Linked DNA regions of Homo sapiens: all the other regions are linked to region 3. Evidence: fine-mapped expression QTL. A gene starts in region 3. Each other region holds a variant in brackets. All regions are shown on one strand. Distances are between the middles of the regions. Region 1 overlaps MAN1A2 (mannosidase alpha class 1A member 2). Region 2 overlaps MAN1A2 (mannosidase alpha class 1A member 2). Region 3 holds the start of MAN1A2 (mannosidase alpha class 1A member 2). Region 4 has its middle 33 kb from the start of LINC01525.

Region 1 (5,336 bases), 30 kb before region 3:
TCTGACATTTCCAGCTGAGAATTTCCCCAACTCACCCACTCACTGTGCAAGCAGGCACACAGATTCAGAAAAACAGAGGACCTGGAAATGGGCCCCAAAGAAGAGCAACATCAAATGGGGAAGACTGGCTCTTTCAAGGGTAATTTTCTGTCCTGATGACAAATGGGGAGATTGCCCCAGGAAAACAAGCTTTCCATTTCTATCTCCACGTACCACATTATCCCCAAGTTATTGCTAAATGGCATGTGGAATCCCCGACCATGTTTGCAATAGCTCATATGTTATCACTCAGAAAGCATCTTCACCTACCAGTGAGCTTCCACGAACAGGTATTACACACCATTTTCTAGAGTCCACCCTGTGGGGGGCAAGACATATATGCCACAAAACATCCCATATCCCCTCACAGAGCTTCACCACGCACATGGGCATTTTAAAAGCCCTGAGAAGTTCTGCAATAGAGTTGCCTAACACAACACTTCTTGAACTTACTTAGTCATAGTCCTCCTTTTCTGCATACTCTTTTTAGCATGCGATGGAACCACAATAAGGAGGCTACCATCATGCCTCACCTAAACTACTGTAATACGCTTCCAATAGTCTTCACACATTCACTCTCCAACCACTCTCCAACCCACCCACAAGCTATTCTCCATCCATACTATAGACCCAATGTGCTTTCTGAAATTATTCAGACTATGCCTCACTCTCACTTAAAACACTTCATGGCTTCCCTTATCCTAAGGAATTCTATTATATTATGGCCTATTAAGAAATTCTGTATAATGTAGCTTCTATCTATCTCTCAAGCTTCATCTCATACATACTCCTCTAGCTCTCTGTTCTACAGCCACACACCTTCTTTCAGTTCTTTTTTTTTTTTTTGAAATAGAGTCTCCCTCTGTCACCCAGGCTGTAGTGCAGTGGCACGATCTCGGCTCACTGCAACCTCTGCCTCCCAGATTCAACAGAGTCTCCTGCTTCAGCCTCCCAACAAGCTGGGACTACAGGCACACGCCACCACGCCTGGCTAATTTTTTGTATTTTAGTAGAAACGGGGTTTCACCATGTTGCCCAGGCTGGTCATGAACTCCTGAGCTCAGGCAATCCACCCACCTCAGGCTCCCAAAGTGCTGGGATTACAGGCATGAGCCACCGTGCCCAGCCACCTTCTTTCAGTTCTTTTACACACCATTTTCTTTCCCATCAATAGCCCCATATGCATGAGGTTTCCTCGCTTAAAACACTCTTACAATTTCTTCTTTACCTTCAAGTCACTGATCAATCATAACTTCTCCTAGATTAGACAAATCTCCCTAATATACAGTCTGATGGCACCATGTATCTTTCCTTCATAGTACTTAACCACATGTGATTCTTTGAGTAATGCCTGTCTCTCCTGATGACTATTAACTCCATTAAGTTCAGAGACCCTATCTGATTTTTGTTCCAACATATCCCTCAATGCCTAGGACACTACCTGGCATATAATAGGTGTTTAAAAATACTAAAATGCAAATACAGATTCTAAGACCCCATCTGAAGTAAATATGATATACAAAGTCTATATACCATCATGAGGCTACAAACAGTCAAAAGAGTTGTAAGGCCGGGTGTGGTGGCTCACACCTGTAATCCCAGCACTTTGGGAGGCTAAGGCGGGTGGATCACGTGAGGTCAGGAGTTCGAGACCAGCCTGGCCAACATGGTGAAACCCCGTCTCTACTAAACATACAAAAATTAGCTGGGCATGGTGGTAGGTGCCTGTAATCCCAGCTACTCAGGAGGCTGAGGCAGGAGAATTGCTTGAACCTGGGAGGCGGAGGTTTCACTAAGCTGAGATCGTGACATTGCACTCCAGCCTGGGCCAACAAAAGCGAAACTACGTCTCCAAAAAAAAAAAAAAAAAAAAAGGGGGTTATAAACAGCGGCTCTGACTACAGGGTAGGCAATACAAATGCATATTAAATATTAAAATCCATATTAAAATTAATGACAAGGTGTTATGGTGAGACCCCTTAATAACACTGCCATGTAACAGTTTTCCATTTTCACTTACTATTGCTATTAACTTCGTGTTAGCATCAGTTGTTCCTCCACAGGTGCAAAGTACATTTGATAGCAACATGTATAATAATTTTTATAATTATTTTTAAAAATAAAAAATTGAGCCCTCTAAATGTTTGCTCTAAAGGAAAGCTCCAATCATCTTATCCCACTTGTTATTGTTACAGCAGTCAAACTTTGCTCATCAGAACCTATGTTGTTGCAATATTGTGAAGAGCCTTATTCAAACACATTTTGAAAATCTAAATAATCTATAGATTTATTTTTATTTGTTCCTCAACAAGCACTATTTGCTTAAGAGTTTAGTGAGTAAACTATTTCAGAAGAACCAATATCAACTAGAGGGCAAGAAAAGACTAACCAGACTGGTCCTAAGAGAAACTCCAGAGTTCCAGGAAATTCAGTCAGACCTCCTATTAACTGGGTTCCAAGAGGAATCATTTTGCAGTTAGAAAAAAAGTATACTTAACCCAAAAGTCAGGAGACAAAGATTTTAGTTCCATCTCTGCCCATGCCTCACACTACAACCTGGAACAATCACTAAAAAAAAAAAAAACCTCTATGATTAGTACCTTCATTAACAGAGATAGGAAAACATACACTACCCTGACTATACCACTTTAAAAGCACTATAACCCTTTTTTGCTAAGTACTTCCTTGTACTTACCTTGGAATCAAGTAAAAAGTAATGTTCTATACACATGTAAGTCAATAATTTCAATCCTTCTAACCTCTCTGTTCCAAATTACAAGTTAATGCAGCAATCTTTACAACTGCCAAAGCAAATAATGTGCTTTATTTCTTTTCCTTGAGTTTTCACAATAATTATTTAGTAGCACTATGAA[C/G]TTTCTTGCTAGTTTTCTTCTCTATATGACTCAAAATTTTATTTTCATTTTGATCTCCATGCAAATGGTTCCTCAAATTTTGCTTTGGCAGCCAAATTTCTAGATTTTTAAATTACTCCAGCTGGGGGTTTTATTTTCACTTGGATGATCTTTCTCTTATATACATATTTTTAAGATTGTTTTTAACTTTGGTATTTTCAACAGATAATTATGTTAGACTTTCATTTGTAAAGATCATTCCTTTTCATCAGTGTCTTGTATCTTCCTGTGTAGTAAAGAATTTGGCCTTGTCCAAAGAGAAGTCTCACCATTGACTTCAGCTTCTGGGAGGTAATGTGTCATAGTTGATAGAAGTGTGCTTGTTTATTATGGGTGCTGGCCATACCAGATCTTCAGGTAGGGTTGGCCACAACTAATAGTTTTAAAGCAAAAGCTGGCCATGTCATAAACACCAACAATATGGCTTAGGACAAGGCTCTGGGTTACACAGTATCAGTCCATTGGGAGACTGAGTTCAACCATACAGGTAATTGAGTAATCAATCAATGATGCCTACATAATGAAGCCCCATAAAACTCTATACACTGAAGCTTGGATGAGGTTACCAGGTTGGCAATCATGCATACTGTCACACATTGGTGCTGGAAGAACATGTCCTGACTCCATGGGAAAAGGACACTGGCAGATCAACATTTGGAACTTTCCTGACTTCACCCTATGTGTTTCTTCCCTTGGCTGATTTTAATCTGGATCCCTGTAATCTGTAATCCCTTTGTGAGTCCTTGCAAATTATCAAGCCAGAGGGTGGTCTGGGGAGCCCTCTGAATTTGCAAGTGGTGCCAGATGTGAGAGTGGTCATGTGAAGAACTGTGTCCTCAAACTTTGCAGTTTGGCTGAGTACCTTCCAAGGTTTCCAAAAAAATCTAGTTTTATATCTACAAGTTCTCATGAGATTTGAAGTTACTCTTTTCAATTGTATCTTAATGTGTAATATTTAATTAACTTTTGGATATCCCATAAGTAATATAAGGTTTTGTTTGTTGTTTTTGTTATATTATTTTGTTTTTTTGTGTTTTGTCCTTCAACACATCCCTGATCCTTGAAGAGCAAGGGCAAATGACAACAAAACTAGTAATTGTGGCTTAGATGTACAAGGCAATGGCTTCATCAATTACATATATTATCTTATTTAATTATCATACCAACTTATGAGGTACTCTCTATCAAACACCATTATTCTCTACCTTGTTATGAAAAAATTAAGGCACAAAGAGAAAAATAGTTTGTTCAGGGTCAAGGAGCTAGTAAGTAGAGTCTAGATATAAACAAATGCATTTTGACTTCTTAAACACTATGCAAATACTGAGAGAGATAAATTTTATTTAAGAGTTTTCTCACACTTACTGTGCAGATACTGAAAACTGTCTCCCAAAATCTTTTCTTTCTTCCTCCTTAGTCCTAGAGCCCTCAAGTTTTGGCTAGACCCATGATCCTGCTAAATAAAAACTCTATTTCTCAGCCTCTCTTATTGAAACTGTCCTGCAGAATTCATACGTGTGAACAGAAATTAACTTCTATCTTGCTTAAGCCGCTGTGGCTCTTGAATCATGTTTGGAAGCATTCTGGATGATTCTAATTTACATAGGGATACATAAAATTACGCTGGAATTTTGGTTGGCAGAAATTTTCCTTTATATTCACTCTTTCCTTCTCTACTGGAGCTTTAACCTTTACTTACAAATATGAAGTTTCACCCGTCCTTAAAAAATAAATAAAAACTCCCCTCAAAACTGCCTCCACTTCAACCTTCATTGGTGTTCTCCTTCCTTCACTTTACTTTTTCAAACAGTACTACACTTGCTGTTTCCACTTCCTACACTTTACATCACTCTTCTATCCACCACTGTTAAAAATTGATCCTTCCTTTGAAGCTCCCTCTTCCTCAAACCTGCTTTACCAACAGGCCTCTGATCATTGGCTTTATCATCTTCAATGTACCCTCAAAAGTACAGTGTTCCAGCCTTTTGGTCACTTCTGCTCTTACACTCATTCAGTAGAAACAGAAGAAGAAAGTGAATGGAGAAAAAGAGAACTTCTTCAACCTAATAAAAGATATCTCCAAAAACTACAGCAAATCACATTCTTGATAAACTACAAAAGTAATTCTCTCTCAAAGTGAGGGAAACAAGTAAGGATGCTCACTATCACGGCTTCAATTTGATTGTACTAGAAGTCCTAGCCAGCAACATAAAAAGAGAAAATGAAGGCCAGGCGCAGTGGCTCACCCCTGTAATCCCAGCACTTTGGGAGGCCGAGGCGGGCGGATCACGAGGTCAGGAGATTGAGACCATCCTGGCTAATACGGTGAAACCCCGTCTCTACTGAAAATACAAAAAAATTAGCCAGGCATGGTGGCGGGTGCCT
Region 2 (5,336 bases), 100 kb before region 3:
GCTTTCCTGGGCCACACTGGAAGCACTGTCTTGAGCCACACATAAAATACACTAACGCTAATGATAGCTGATGAGCTTTTTAAAAATTGTAAAAAAAAAAATCTCATGTTTTAAGAAAGTTTATCAATTCGTGTTGGGCTGCATTCAAAGCCATCCAGTGCCCTGGGTTGGGCAAGCTTGCTCTAAGGCATTCCAACACTAAGAGGCTAGGAGAAAAGGAGAAAACTAATAATAATAATAAAAAGACTGAGTGAAGCATGAAGCTAAGTAAGGCTATGAGAAAAGCAAAAGAATGTATTGTCCTAGAAACTAAAAGTGCTTTAAGAAAAAAGAAATTCTTACCATTATATTACATCACATCATGTATTTGTTTATTTCATATCTCTCCAGCAGAATGTAAGTTCTCCAAGGGTATTAGGGACACTGTCTACTTGTTCACATCTATATACCTAGCATCTGGAACAGTGGTTGATATTTAGTATCAGTGAAATTAGTGAATGCAAACATCCTGTAGAGAAAATATATTCCTATAATACTATCACACATAAAATTGATATTAATCTTTTAATGGGTATTTATATATATACCCTAATATTTTTCCTTTTCCCTAACAGGTGGTTGCAAGAGAGATTACTATATTTGAATAGTTTATTTAACTTAGGATTTTCCTTTTCTGTTTTCATTGAATAGGTAGGAATTTATTGATAAGAGGACATAGAGAAGGCGGAAGGTATTCCAAACGGAAAAAGGTGCAGTTAAAATGGGGAAACGAATATTTCAGAAATAGTCAGAACTGACAAGACTTAGTGAAGAATGAATGTAGGATACAAAGGGAAAGATAAAATCTATGATGACTACCACTCCCACAGACAGCTATCCTAGATCCAGATCCGTATTATATTAGCTTTCTAGTATGTCCTTCTGCTGTAAGCCTTTCCTTTTCCTAATTTAGCCTATTTATTACAATGTATTTTATAGACAGTTTTAACAGAATAAAACTAATCTTGTTCCTTCATTAGTTTTCTCAAAACCTGATCCGGTTTCTTCTCAGTATCTGAATATGACACCTTATGGTATATGCCTTGTTTAACTTTTAACAGAGTATATATATTCACTGAGTGCAAAAGGAAGAATGTGAATTAGAAATGTTATAATAACAAATCATATTAAAACAAAATTAACCTTATTATTGAACAGAGAATTTACATTTTCTTGTCAATTATCTTCAATAAAAACAAAATATACAAACAAAAAAAAAACCTTCTCAAGTGAGAATTCTGTCCATCTTGCTTTACAGAACATCTGAAATTACATTAAAGCAAAAGGATACCACTAAGGAACTTGAAGCTACTTCTCTTTCCTGTAGATTATATGCCTACATGTCAAATTTGATAAACCATGTCACTCTAAGGTCCTTTTGATATTCAGAAATTGATTAACATATTATAAAATACTCCTAAATAGCAATGATTCATATGATTTATTTCAACATGTTATACAGTTAATGGCAGGTTTCTAACAGAAGCTATTTCTTGAAGTCTTCTTATGGGAAATTCTAGAATAAAAACTAATTTGAAGCATTTTCAAACATATTATAAATATGATCCACATGAATTTTCTATTAAATAAGTACAATGAGAACAGATAAAGATGCATAGAGAAGTTAAATAAATTATCTAAATTATTAAGCAAGACAATCAATTCATTTTCTAACTCAAAGGGGCATAACATGTCCATTCTTGTTTTTTCCACAATTATAAATTTAGTAATATAAAACAATGAATCAGTAATGACTGATTTCCTATATTTTCTTCACTTTAATCATTAAATGACATAGGCTAAGTATTGTGCTTAGAAAACTAGCAAAAAAAAAAGTTTTAGAAAAGAAAAAAAAACTAGTAATTTGCCTTTAAATCTAGGTTTCTTGCTATATTCTTTTACATCTGTTGCCAAGCACTTTTCCTGAAGGTAATTACCAGTAATTATCTTCTGTGATTGCTATGTGCATGTCACAGACATTATCATTACTCTAATTATAATACAGTTAGCCAAAGCTGAATTGTTAAATTTCAGTTCAATTAAATGTTTGTTTTGCAGACTATTTATAAATATGACAGATGCATATAGCTCAAAGATAATAATAAAATTTGATATACTTTTCAGAGGCTGATATAAAATATACAAAAACATTAAAAGGAACAAATTGGACAATT[C/T]TGTAAGGACTACAGCTGCTAAAAGGATATCAGGGCAGCTCGCTAGGATTTTAAAGATCTTCTGCCAAAATAACCAGTGAATAGCTCTTTCTATAACACTGAAATTAAAAACTGCTGAGAGTGAATATATTATAAAGTAATTTGAATTTATTTTGTGAGGAAAAAACAGAGGAATAAAAGTTATCTTTTTTGTTGTAAATTTTATTGTGATGAAATGTATATAACACAAAAGTTGCCATTTTAACTATTTTGAAAGTGTACCATTCAGCAGCATTAATTATATTCACAGTGCTGTAAAACCATCACCACTACCTATTTCCAAAAATTTTCATCACTGCAAATACAAACTCTAGCAATAACTCTCCATTTTCTTCTCCACTTTCTTCTCATCCAAAGCCTCTGGTCAACTCTAATCTACTTTCTGTCTCTATGGATTTGACAACTCTAGATATTTGATATAAGTGGAATCATACAATATTTGTCCTTTTGTGACTGGCTTTTGTTGATTAGCATAATGTTTTCAAGGTTTGTTTATATTATAGCATGTATCAGAACTCCATTCCTTTTTATGGCTGAGTAATAGTCCATTGTATGTTTATACTCACATATTGTTTACCCATTCATCTGTTGGACATTTGAGTTACTTTCTCCTTTTGGATATCATAAATAATGTAATGAACACTAGGCTACAAGTATCTGTTTGAGTCTCTGTTTTCAAATCTTCTGGGTATATACAGAGGAGATGAAGTGCTGGGTCATATGGTAATTCTATGTTTAACTTTTTAAGGAACTGCTAGGTTTTCACAGCAGCTGCACCATTTTACATTCCTACTAGCAGTGTACAAGGGTTCCAACTTCTCCACATCCTTGCCAATGCTTATTTTTCATCCTTTTGATTACAGTCTTCCTAGTAGCTGTGAAGTGGTATCTCAGTGAGTTTATTTGTATTTTAATGTTAACCATCTTTTTCATGTACTTATTTTCCATTTGCATATCTTCTTTGCAGAAATGACTATTCAAGTCCTCACCCATTATTTAATTTGGTGATTCGCCTTCTGTTGTTGAGTTGTAGGTAGTTTGCCTTCTGTTAGTGAGTTGTAGGAGTTCTTTATATATTCTGTGTATAGACCCTTAAAAGACATGTGATTTGCAAATATTTTCTCTCATTCTGTGGGTCGTCTTTCTTTCTCATAGATAGTATGCTTTGATGCACAAAAATTTTCAATTTTAATCAAATCCAATTTATCTTTTATTTTTGTATTGTTACCTGTGCCTTTGGTGTCATATTGAAGAATCCAGTGTCAAATCAAAGGTCACGAAGATTTTCCCCTATGTTTTCTTCTAAGAGTTTTACAGTTTTGGTTCTCAAATTTAGAGTCTTTGATCTGTTTTGAGTTAATTTTTGTAGATAATATAGAGTAAGGGTTCAACTTCATTATTTTTCACATGGCTATCCAGTTTTCTCAACACAACGTTGAAGAGAAAGAGTTCTGTTTTTTGGATTTGGTTTTGTTTTATTTTGTTTTTTGAGAGAGGGTCTCGCTCTGTCACCCAGGCTGGAGTGCAGTGGCACAATCTCGGTTCACTGCAACCTCCACCTCCTGGGTTCAAGTGACTCTCCTGCCTCCATGTCATCAATGTTGTACTTTTGATCATTTTAAGGCTGGCAATTCTCAAACTGTGATTTACTTTTCTGAGTATCCTTATACTGGCATGGAAAATGGGATTCTCTTTTTATTTAAAAATGTTTTTAAGCTAACATCAAAAGTAATAGATGTTCATAATCAAATCTGGATAGTAACAGTAAATGAAAAGGAGAAAATAAAAACACAAATTCAAAGAAAACCACACATAACACTTTGGTTTCTATTTCTATAGTGTTTCCTCTCCTTTTCTAAATATCTTTCTAGATATGTCATTTATCTATGTCAGGTATTCTAAAATATAACTTTTAATGGCTGCATAGTATACTATATCTGGACAGGCCAAAATGTATTTAACCAAATCCCTATTACAAGACGTTTAAAAACTGCCCTGTCCAATGTAGAAGCACTAGCTACAAGTAGCTAATTAAATGTAAGTTAATTAAATTAAAATTTAATATGTAATTCCACAACCATACTAGCAACATTTCAAGTGCTCCATGGTCACATGTGGCTAGTGACTACTGTATTGGATAATACAGATAATAGGATCTTTTCCTCATTACAGAAAGTTCTGTTAGATAGAACTGCTTTAGATTGCTTCCAAATTATCCCTATTATAAACAACCCCAAGATTATTGTAAATAAACTTTAATATATAGCTCTGAAAATTTATTTGGAATAAATTGCTGGAAATGAGTTGCTGGCTCAAAAAGCATACAAATATATACACTCTGGAGAGTGGGTACAGGAAGATGTTACCCCCATGCTGTTCTCTTGATAATGAGTGAGTTCTCACAAGATCTGATGGTTTTATAAGGGGCTTTTCCCCGCCTTGCTTGGCACTTCTCCTTCCTGCCACCATGTGAAGAAGGATGTGTTTGCTTCCCCTTCTGCCATGATTGTAAGTTTTCTGAGGCTTCCCCAGCCCTGTGGAACTGTGAGTCAATTAAACCTCTATCCTTTATAAATTACCCAGTCTCAGGCAGTTCTTTATAGCAGCATGAGAACAGACTAATACAGAGGTTAACAATAATATACAGGAAAACTGACATCTTTTTTTTGTAGTTTCTGTTTTACATGACATGCTTAGAAAAGGCTTTCCTGATTATATATTCAACCCTTTTTTTAGTACTTTTATGATTTCATCTTTTACATTTAAATAGTAATACCATATAGAATATACACTGGCATATAGTCTAAGACAGGAACTGAACATAATTTTTCATATACATTATTATATCATTATATTATCATAATATTCTCAAATCTCAATACAACTCACAGGGGTAAAGATTTATGATTGATAGAATTCATCCAAATTACTAAGTAGACATCCAATCCAGTCACTCTTATCTGAAATAAGAAAACTACGTTTTTACATTTTAGAAATGCAGCTCTCAGGGTTTTGTTTTTCCAGAAAATATCATTCCCACTCAGTCTAGGCATTAGAGCTTTTATCTTCTTCAAAATAAAGAGA
Region 3 (5,000 bases):
ATTTTCAAGGAAAACTACTTTCACCGTTAATTTTTCAGTAACATATTTCACAGATCATATTAGTGTTTTCTTAAAGTCACAACAAGCAAAGTGCAAAATTAAAGAAACAAATACAGGAGTACAGTAGTCGAAAATGGCAAAAATTCCAAATTAACTTAGTTACAAAAGAATGGCATGAAACAATATTAGAAGTAACTACTCCATAAAATTCATCCAAAAGTCAAAGAACCATCACACAAGTAATGAATTAACTAGGTTGAGAAAAAAAGAAAAACCAGTTCTCATAAAACAGTGCATTTTCCCAAATATTTAATGTAGGCTTACACGTGAACCTAAGCTTTTTCGGTGCTTGACAAAAAGTTAAAACTATCATCAGATGGGAAATGAATTCAAGCACATGATTTTTTTTCCCACATACTCAAGAATTATTTTAAGAAACAAGGAAAAGATGGCAGGTTTAAGAAAAGTCAACTACTTTCCCAAACTCTTGAGTACAAATATAAAAATTATAAAAATTGTAACTAGAGCTCCCATTTTATCCTAGTTTGGCTATGCTCTCCCCAGAGCTCACTTTAGATTTAGTGATCTGAAAGAATGTGAACCCCTTAATCAACCAAATTCCAATAGTTGCTTGACACAGTCCATCTATTACATTAAAAGAGAGAGCAAAATTAAGTTTCACAAAAATAAATCTTGTCTACAAGCCTCACAAAGTGCAATAACTTAGGATTCAATACCTTTTAACTTAACTGATTTCATATACAGCACCAACACACATCCCCAAAAAAAGAACAAAAATCAGGATATTTTCACGTTAAGAAATGACAGGTATATTCTGCCCACGTTTGTCATCCTAAAAAGCTGACTCACTACTAAGCTTCAACTACAAGCCAGAAAACGAGAGCCCTCTGGGAGAGCACACCCAAAAGAGCTGTCAAGGTTCGATGCTTTGATTTCACATGGTGGCACAATGACTGACTCCAACACGTTATTAATAAATGCAGGCACAGCTTATGTCACCATTTCTTTAGGTTAAGTTTTCATACCTCCCTTCCCAGATGTCCACATTAGACACAACTCTGAACGCAAATGTTTTTCTTATATAAAACCGAAGAGAAGAACGACTTAGGTAGGACTCCAGTCCTACCAGTCTATGGACTCTACCATAGACTGGAGGTAGAGTCCCTCCAGTCTATGGTTTTATTCAGCCAGTCTTGAAGTAACAATACAATATTTATGACTCGAAAAATTACATTTTACTGCAAGAAAAAAAAAAGACAGATTCGATCCAATCACCGTACCTTGCTCTGCCAAATGTTAGTACCAGAACTTCTGAAATAAACAAACCTGTGTCTATGTTCATCGGGTCCATGGATCAGGAAGACTCCGGGGTTTTTAGCCCCTTTACCGGCATCTACATGTGGAATTAACACATCTTCTAAACCCAAATCAAAGCGTTTGTGTTTTGAAGAGTCTGGAAGGAAAAAGAATGCCCCAAAACACAGAGTGATGAAGGCACTAAGAATAAGGAGAAGAATAAACTTCTCAGAAAGTCTCAAGGTAGCCCTGTGATGTGGGAAGGAAGGCGGCCCCAGGTTCAGAGGTGGTATCCTACGTCCAGAGAGGGGCAGCAGGGCTGGGGTAGTCATCGTTTACGCTCTTGGAGAGAATACTTTAGAAAGTTCTCATCTTATGTCAAATGTAGAATACATTGAACTGTCTTCAAAATCTTGGCCAAAATGGGAAAACTCAATTTTGCTCCTCTTAAAGGACTGTTGTGCTTTTTAAGAGGGCACGTCATTCACGCCCATCCATTCCCACTCAGAAACGTGTGTGACCTCCCCCAAACGATCACAAGTTTAGGTCCTGCGATATCCTCTTCAACATCTGTACTTCATCGGATTATTACAAGCCTCCTCTTCATTCCTAGGGGTAGATCAGGCAAGCCACACTGCAGAAAAGCTGCAAGGTGGGTTCTTCCATTCCTGCACCTCAGTGAGATGCTCAAACGTAGTCTTCCGCCCCGAAAGGGAGACTGGCGACATCCGAGGAGTTGTAGAAGGTTCACTTGATCTCCTTCGACGCTTCTATTCCAGAATCTCTTAACCTTAGCGGTGGAAAAAATAAGGGTCTCCCACGGACGTCTGCAAACAGGGAGGAAGGTCTCCCACTTCGCTGGGAAGCCGAAGCAGCGGCGCTGGGCGAAGTAGCAGGAAGGAGTTCTCGGCCGCCCGCGCTTCCCGGCGCTGCCTGGCAGGAACCTGGCGCCCGGCTGAGTCCCGCTGCTGCCCACTCGACGGCTGGCGCGAAGGGCAATAGCGTCCGAAACACCTGAGTCCGGCCAGCCGCCGCGGCCGCCGCCGCTGTTGCTACCGCACGGGTCTGTCAGGGAGCGGAACTTCCTCCTCCGGCGGCCACTGAGAAGCCCCGGCGTGTCCTGGGGGAGGGGAGGCGCGGCGGCCGCCCCCGCCGAGCTCCTCCTCCTCCTCCTCCTCCTCTTCCTCCTCCTCCTCCTCCTCTCCGCGGCCGGTTCAGTGAACCCCGGCGCCTGCTCCCCGAGCTAGGCCGCCGGCCGCAGTGGCCGAGCCCTCGCGCCTAAGAAGCCGAGCCGGGGCCCACGCTCCGAGAGCCCGGGGTAGGCGCCGGCTCATTCCTCACTCAGCCCTGGAGCGGCGGGAGGGCCTGGGCGCGCGGGAGCAGCCGCGCCTCGGGCGGGCAGAGGTCGGCCGCGTCTCCTTCCTGCCCGGCCGCGGGGGCCTCCTCCGCGCCGCCTCCGGTGGCTCGCAGCTGCTGGCTCTGGCGGCGGCTGCCAGAGAGGCAGCGCGCCCACGCCGCTCGGGGCTGCGGCCCGGTCCCCGTACCCTGCCTCCCCAGGCCTGGTGAGCGCAGCAGCTGCTGGGCCGACACCCGTTGGGCTCACGCCGGAGAGGAACCGGAGGGCGGGGGCGATGGGACCCGGGCCGGCCTACCGGCCCCGGCTCGCGAGTGGGCGTCCCCGGGCGGCGGAGTGTGAGGTGCGCGCGCACGCTCCCGGCTCCGCTGCCGCCGCCCCTCCCCCACCCAGCCTGGCTGCCCGGGCTCCGGCCTCGCGCCGCTGCCGGCTCCAGCAGCCCGAAAGCGTACTGCTGCCGCCGCCGTCTGAGCGCGAAAGAAGAGAAGGTCGCCGATCTGCGCTGCCACGAGAACTTCACCGGTGCCCAGGGCCTTGCCACCGCCAGTTCGTGGGGTTGACCCAGCGTTTGGGCGAGAGGGAGCGAGGGGTTGGGTCGCGAAGGTTTCGCTGAAATGTAGTGTCACCGGAGTTAATGGCTTCTGATGGCTTAGGTTAACGTTTACTGTGATTCTTTGGAAGTCTTGTCTTCAGCGATAGACCGTCAGGCCCGAGGATTCAGCAACAGGGTCTCAAACTTCCACGCAGCAGCCCATGCTCACGTTATTGGGCCCCCGAGGCTCGATTAATAGAGCACCAACATGTGCCATGTTACGTTTTTAAAATAAAGTGGTGACCCTGCTCCTTCAGCTGGGCTTCCTTTCAGAGGAATCTAGGTACCCCCGATATGACAGGCGTCTCTTCATTGTTCAGTTTCTGGGGCACGTTCTATCATCTTCACACACCTCATCAACCCCCTTCCCATAAAAGAGAAAATGGATGAATAAGGAGGTGCTGAAACCCAAAAAGGCGACAATATTGTTTACGTTCAGGCTTAAAAACAATCTGAATCAATTCTGTTCTCCGTAGTATTGAGGAGAGCCATGTTGTGATTAAGTGCAAAAGATTTCCTTGCAAGATACATAGACTCTTGCATCCGATTTACTTGCAGGTTGTTTTTGTTCTAATATTGTCATTCCCTGTACACATCCTTTACTGATGACTGGGAATTGGAGAGGAGGCCCTTAAATGTCAGGAGAGTAAGTCAGCCTTAGCTTAAAAATCAAGCAGAAAAGTCTCATGTTCATTGGCACACTTGTAACTACATTCCAGTCTCCCAGTCTGCATTATTTCTAGAAGCTCTGCATATCTAACTGCCTACCACATGACAAAAGTCATTGTCATTGATCCTGCTTCACCAAATAAAAAGTAAAAATATTGAGGGCCACCTCTCACCAGTTCACCCAGGGAGACTGGTAAGCAAGGAGTGCCCGGTCCCTAGTGAGATTTATGTTGAACATTTGTGAAGAGTAGATATAAGAAACTTTTAGCCTTCCCAATATGTCTTTATAAAATGTGCCAAATTTAAGAATAAGTCTCTAATGTTGAGACTCCGTAAGCCAAAGTGGGGGGGGCGGTGGGGAGGCGGGGAAGAACACACTGTTTTCCTACTGTTGAGATCATTAGTTTCCATGAAAAGTTCAGGGGAAATAAATACTGAACTCTGAATGAAATAGCAAGTTATATAAATCTTGAAAAATAAATATTACCTAGGTTAACACTAGACTTAACCACAAGAGATTTCAATCATGAAACCTGACATAACCTAGTTGACAAGTATAGCTTAAGCAAGTAAGACCTCATTGCTGATGGAGAAGACCCCTTTTCCTTTGCTTGTCTGTTTTGCAAAATTCATTTTTCCTTCATGAGAGTAAAAACAATTTAGGGGTTATTGCAGATGTCCAAATGCAGCCAGCAATTTTAAAGTCATTGATGATACCGTCAGTTATCACACTCCTACACCAGCAATGAAAATACTGTATACATAGTATTACATATATCCACTCTTCTAAAGGCAAGTCTGAGTTTTTAAAGAATCATGTTGTTTAAAAAAAAAAAAGTTGCAAATGTATCCATTAATTATAATTATATGCACTTAAAAACATAGAAAAAGAATATTTGAAAAAGATTGCAACTATTCTGTTAAGATACTGGTTTTACGTATGATTTTCTCCATTGTATTCTGTTGCATTATATTTACAATTAAATAAAAATTATAAAGGAACTGGTGCCTGAAAAAGTTAAGGTCAAATTTCAAATAGGTAGACTCGGTAGTATCAAGATGAACACA
Region 4 (5,336 bases), 39 kb after region 3:
ATTAAATCAATATGGAAGGGAAGGGAAGAGGAGGAGAGGGGTAAGAGCACTTAGCTAGGTGCCAAAGTGAGTGTACTAAAACTGCTAGCTGCAGGCAGTGGTCAGAGGTAACAAAGATGCAGTCCTGGCTTCAGGGGCTAAAATCTGGATCTGAAAACCAAGGTTATAGCACTTCCATACTAAGCATAATGAAACACATAATACAATACAGCACAAACATAGTGCTTTGAAAACAGGTGGTAAGTAATAATTCCAGCTGGAGGATTAGGGAAACACTTTATGGAAGAGGGCTGTGTTTAAGCTGGACCTTAAAAGATAATACAATTTTTGATAGAGGGGAAAGGGGCAGCTTTCCATGCAAGGCAAAAAAGTACAAAATTGGGAAAATATTTGGCATGTTCCAGGACCGGAGCTTAATACAAGTGATGAAAGTGCAAGTCAGGCAGAAGAAAGAACATCTAGAAGGTCAACCCCAGTGACCTTGAATGTTCAGCTATGGTGTTTAAGACAACACACAGACTTGAAGGTTTTTGAGTTGCAGAATCACAGGCACAGGCCCATATGACTATATTATATTTATTTACTTATTATTTCTATTTATTATTCAGAAATCAGTGTGAAAGGTAGATTAGATGGGATCTGGTCACTCAGATTCTTCAAATCAGCCCTGACTGTCAAACAGGCCAAATGCTTTATTTTCTCATGGATTCTTTCAATTTTTGAAAGATTTTCAATATTACATTGGAAACAAATATAATATAATCATAATAGCTCATGAGAAAAGTCCAAACTCAGGAGTTGCAGAGAATAGGGAAAGAAGGAAGAGATTTAACAGTGAGAGGGGAGGACAGGGTCAGAGTAGTTGAAAGATCACTGGGCAGTTAGGCTGCTGATGATGTTGTTTTCTGAGGTCAGGAATTCATGAAGACAAATGGGATCAGTTTAGTTTGGGAAATGTTGACCTTAAGGATGTCTTTTGAACACTCAGTTGGAAATAGGCTATTGATGCCCAAGATGTTAGAGCAGGAGAAATGGAGATGTGTCAGCATTGCTCCATCATTAACAAGATCAATGTTGCTTTTCTAAGATGTTTACAGTCAACCTAATATGTGCATATCAGAATGGAAGCATCTCAGATCAATGAAGATAGGTGAATTGTTTAATAAACAGTGTTGGGAAAATTGGCTGGCTATTTGGTCAAAAAAATGTGGCACCCATCTCATACTGCACATAAAAATAAATCCCAGATGAATTAAATGTGGAATTGAAAACACAACAAAGAAAAGTATTTAGGTAAGGAATATACACACAGATAGACACACACAGACACACACGTATTGACAAAGATATACATAAACACATTTACATCTGAATTTATTTCCATATTTACATATATTTACTGAAATCCATGAGTTCACACTGGTATCTCCAATATCAATTCAACACCACAGTGTTCATTCTAGTTTTCTCCCTTTCCTTATTTCTAACTCTCTTCTACAACGAGAACCTTAGTTCCCATTATTTTTAATTTTTTTATTAGATCAAATCCCCTGTATATAGCCAATATCTTATCATCATTGCTGCCCCTGTCCCTGAGTAGAGCCCCCATCCCATCTGGGCTCTGACATCCCACACCAGGCCACCCATCTGAATGGATGTCTACCTTTCTCTGCTCCATACAATGGATTTAGGATGGAATTGCTCAGAAAGGAGAAGGGAAGAGAAAGAAGAAGGGAAGGGAAAGGAAAAGGAAGGGAAGGGAAAGGGAAGACACTTCCATTTTTTGTTTATTGATTTATTTGTTACAGAAAATAAATACCCCAAATTGCCAAAATCTACCATTTTATTTATATATATATATATATTTGATTCCATTTCATTCAAGTACCATAAAAAGTGTACTTTTTATGTTTAATCCATTCTGGGAAAAATGAAGAGGTATTTCCCAGAGCATCACTTCCACCCAGGAATTTATAATCTCATTGAAGAAGTTAAACAATGCATATTAATAACACAAACCAAAAATAAGCAGTTCAATAGAATAGTGGCATGAGCTAGCACTAGTTCCCTGGTTCTCATAGAACCAGGTAGATGAATACACATTTTCTGCAAGCCTGACTTATCTGGGGTTTGGCTCTGACAGAATAATCCTAGCCTGCTAGGGAAGGTTGAAGACTCACCCTTAATAAAATGCAAGCGGCCTAGAGCAAGGGTTCTTTCCAAATTATTGTAACCACTTCTTCTTGCCAATGGTTTTTTTGTTTGTTTGTTTTTGACATGGTCTTGCTCTGTTGCCCAGGTTGAAGTGCAGTGGCATGATCCCGGCTCACTGCAGCCTTGACTTCCTTGACCTCCTAGACTCAAGAAATCCTCCCACCTCAGCCTCCCAAGCAGCTGGGACCACAGCCAGGCACAACTATGCCCAGCTAATTTTTAAATGTTTGGAAAGACGGAGGTCTCACTTTGTTGCTCAGGCTGGTCTTGAACTCCTGAGCTCAAGCGATCCTCCTGCCTCAGCCTCCCAAAGTGTTGAAATTGTAGGCATGAGCCATTGCACCCAGCCCTTCCTTCCAATTGAATAAAAATTGCTACCATCCCATATAACACAGAGCAGAAAACCATCTGCAAATCTTAACGGATCATTGTCCCATTCCCAAGCAGGGCGGGGTCTGTGATTCCAAGCCCTCCACTGCTCACACGCCAAATGAGAACATGGGAAAATGA[A/G]CATGGGAACTGACAGTCTCCCCGCGAACGTGGGAACTGACAGTCTCCCCGTTCACTTTGTTACATAAGTGATACAAACTCTTTTTAGAAATTATACACAGGCAAAAGAGCAAACATCACACATAGTCTTACAACTTTTAGAGTAAATGCTTCCAGAATTTTTTTCTATGCATTTGTAAGGTAAGTTTTATAAATAATTGCTATGCATCAGTTTCCTCATCTGTAAAATGAAGATGATAATAATATCTGCCTCATTTGAGAGACTGAGGACAAAACATGAGTTTAAAAAAAGAGCGCTTCATATAGCACCTAGTGCATCTATAAAGGTAACACAATCTATATCTTTCTAGCACTTATCTGTCTAGATTCAGCTACATTTTTTTTTATAAAATAGATGGAAGTATTCATATTTCCTTGTAGTTTGCTTTTTTCACCTAAAGATATAGCATGATCTTCTTCCCTTGTGGGACAGTTCAAAAAGGGCAAAGAGACCGTTAGATCCTTTGAGTGACATTTTAAAGTGGAAAGTGGTGTGGGGAAATGGGCCCTAGTCCTTCAAGGGTATTATTTCGAGGTGATGAGCGAGGTTAGGGCAAAGCCTGCATCTACTACTTCTTGGACCTACAAGCTTAGGAATGCTGCTTGTATATACTCTCAGAGTCTGAGTGCCAGGCAAACCTTGAAGCTCAATCCTTTCCAATTTTGTTGTTGTTGTTGTGTAAGCAATAAAACCATGTTTCCCCCAACAAAATCTTATAAAGAACTCAACAAGTAAAACCATTCTGAAACATCAGAATACATTTATTTTATAAGCTTGAATGTATACTATTTGTTAATTGTAAGGCTTATCAATAAGATCAATAAGGCTGTTTGAGAAACAGAAACTGAAATCCAGGAATATGGATAACGATCACAGTCTTTGTCAACATCAGCTTCCATGAAATGGAATAAAACATTTGTGAAAATTTTGCAGTACCACTCTCATAGAATGAAGTACTAAAACTAGTGCCCCAACACCCTTATTTTACAGATGAGAAAATTAAGGGCCAGAGATATCGCATACTTTTTAAATATTAAGAGCACCAATAATAAAAATACTCTGATAACAGGAAGAAAATATTTTACTGAAGAAAGTATCTGGAATGGTTAATATGTATTTTCCACAAAATATGGTTCTTTTCCATTTAAATGATTGCCATATCATTCTCCAATTAATAAAATGGAAATGGTCAATTAACTTAGCTGCCATTTTTTGTTATTTTGCTTTAGTCTCATAGCTTGTAAGCCCTGAATTGTGCTGACTATGTAATTTGTATTTTATTCTGTTCCTGGATGTAAAGATTTACTGATTATCTCTAATAATTAAATTATGCATTTTAACTTATGACTCAGCATCCCACTTTCTACATATCAGCTGTTCTTGTCTATTAAATATCTATCTCATCATCTGTAATTTCAGTTCTTTTCTCATCATGAGGCTTGTCTGTAAAATTCAGGAAGCCACTATCTACAAACAGTCTCCTGCACTAATGAAACAAGGTCAAGCTTCGCTGACAGAAATTTAAAAGCTGACTCCAGATTTTACCCTGCCACTGCCTCCTTCCACATGGACAGTTGATGGACAACTCCTTAGTGTAGTTACAATTATTCCACCCTGTCTATATGAGGACCGACACACCCCTGACCTCCACATGGATCATAGTTTCTCAAAACTTTGCGTATATTTTGTCTTTTTAAAAAATATGATCCAAAGTCATGTTTTTAAAAATTATATTGTGAAATACACTATACATGCAAATAAATGTATCAGTGATGTTTATTTATTTATTTTTATTTTTATTTATTTATTTTTTTGAGATGGAGTCTCGCTCTGTCGCCCAGGCTGGAGTGCAGTGGCGTGATCTTGGCTCACTGCAAGCTCCGCCTCCCGGGTTCACGCCATTCTCCTATCTCAGCCTCCCGAGTAGCTGGGACTACAGGTGCCTGCCACCACGCCCGGCTAATTTTTTGTATTTTTAGTAGAGACAGGGTTTCATCATGCTAGCCAGGATGGTCTCGATCTCCTGACCTCGTGATCCGCCTGCCTCAGCCTCCCAAAGTGCTGGGATTACAGGCTTGAGCCACCACCCCTGGCCCCTTATTTTTATTTTTTGAGACAGAGTTTTGCTCTGTCACCCAGGCTGGAGTGCAGTGCACAATCTTGGCTCACTGCAACCTCTGCCTCCCAGGTTCAAGCGATTCTCCTGCGTCAGCCTCCTGAGTAGCTGGGATTACAGGCACGCACCCACGCCCAGCTAATTTTTGTATTTTTAGTAGAGATAAGGTTTTGCCATGTTGTCCAGGCTGGTCTTGAACTCCTGACCTCAGGTGATCCACACACCTTGGCTTCCCAAAGTGCTGAGATTACAAGCATGAGCCACCACGCCCAGCCTATTGAAGGTATTTATTTTAAAGTAATATATTCTTTTTGAAAATTAATAGTTTCATAAGATCATACTTGCTTATTGTAGACAGTTTAGAAAATATTTTAGAAGTATAAAAATACCTAATGACATGCTGAAAATCACTCATAAAAGAGTCTGCTCTTTGTTTTTCTCTCTTCCTACATATTT

Evidence for each region. PIP is the estimated chance that this variant, and not a neighbour inherited with it, causes the effect. A credible set is the group of variants that fine-mapping cannot tell apart.
Region 1: its variant is the best candidate, but not a certain one, in a credible set for the expression of MAN1A2 in whole blood (INTERVAL, PIP 0.64).
Region 2: its variant is the best candidate, but not a certain one, in a credible set for the expression of MAN1A2 in unexposed skin (GTEx, PIP 0.80).
Region 4: its variant is the best candidate, but not a certain one, in a credible set for the expression of MAN1A2 in whole blood (TOPMed, PIP 0.80).

Annotation. Positions count from the first base shown.
Region 1 is chr1:117,394,223-117,399,558 of GRCh38, reverse strand. All of the region lies in intron 1 of MAN1A2 (mannosidase alpha class 1A member 2), which reads right to left. Among named protein-coding and RNA genes, the nearest start is that of MAN1A2, 29 kb to the right of the region's middle. The variant C/G (reference allele first, on the strand shown) is at 2,913.
Region 2 is chr1:117,467,578-117,472,913 of GRCh38, reverse strand. All of the region lies in intron 8 of MAN1A2 (mannosidase alpha class 1A member 2), which reads right to left. Among named protein-coding and RNA genes, the nearest start is that of MAN1A2, 100 kb to the right of the region's middle. The variant C/T (reference allele first, on the strand shown) is at 2,214.
Region 3 is chr1:117,364,833-117,369,832 of GRCh38, reverse strand. MAN1A2 (mannosidase alpha class 1A member 2) reads right to left here and starts at 2,384. Exons shown (of 13, transcript NM_006699.5): 1 at 1,348-2,384. The coding sequence starts at 1,649. RefSeq lists an enhancer at 1,319-1,458 and a silencer at 2,329-3,148.
Region 4 is chr1:117,325,897-117,331,232 of GRCh38, reverse strand. No RefSeq gene overlaps it. Among named protein-coding and RNA genes, the nearest start is that of LINC01525, 33 kb to the right of the region's middle. The variant A/G (reference allele first, on the strand shown) is at 2,725.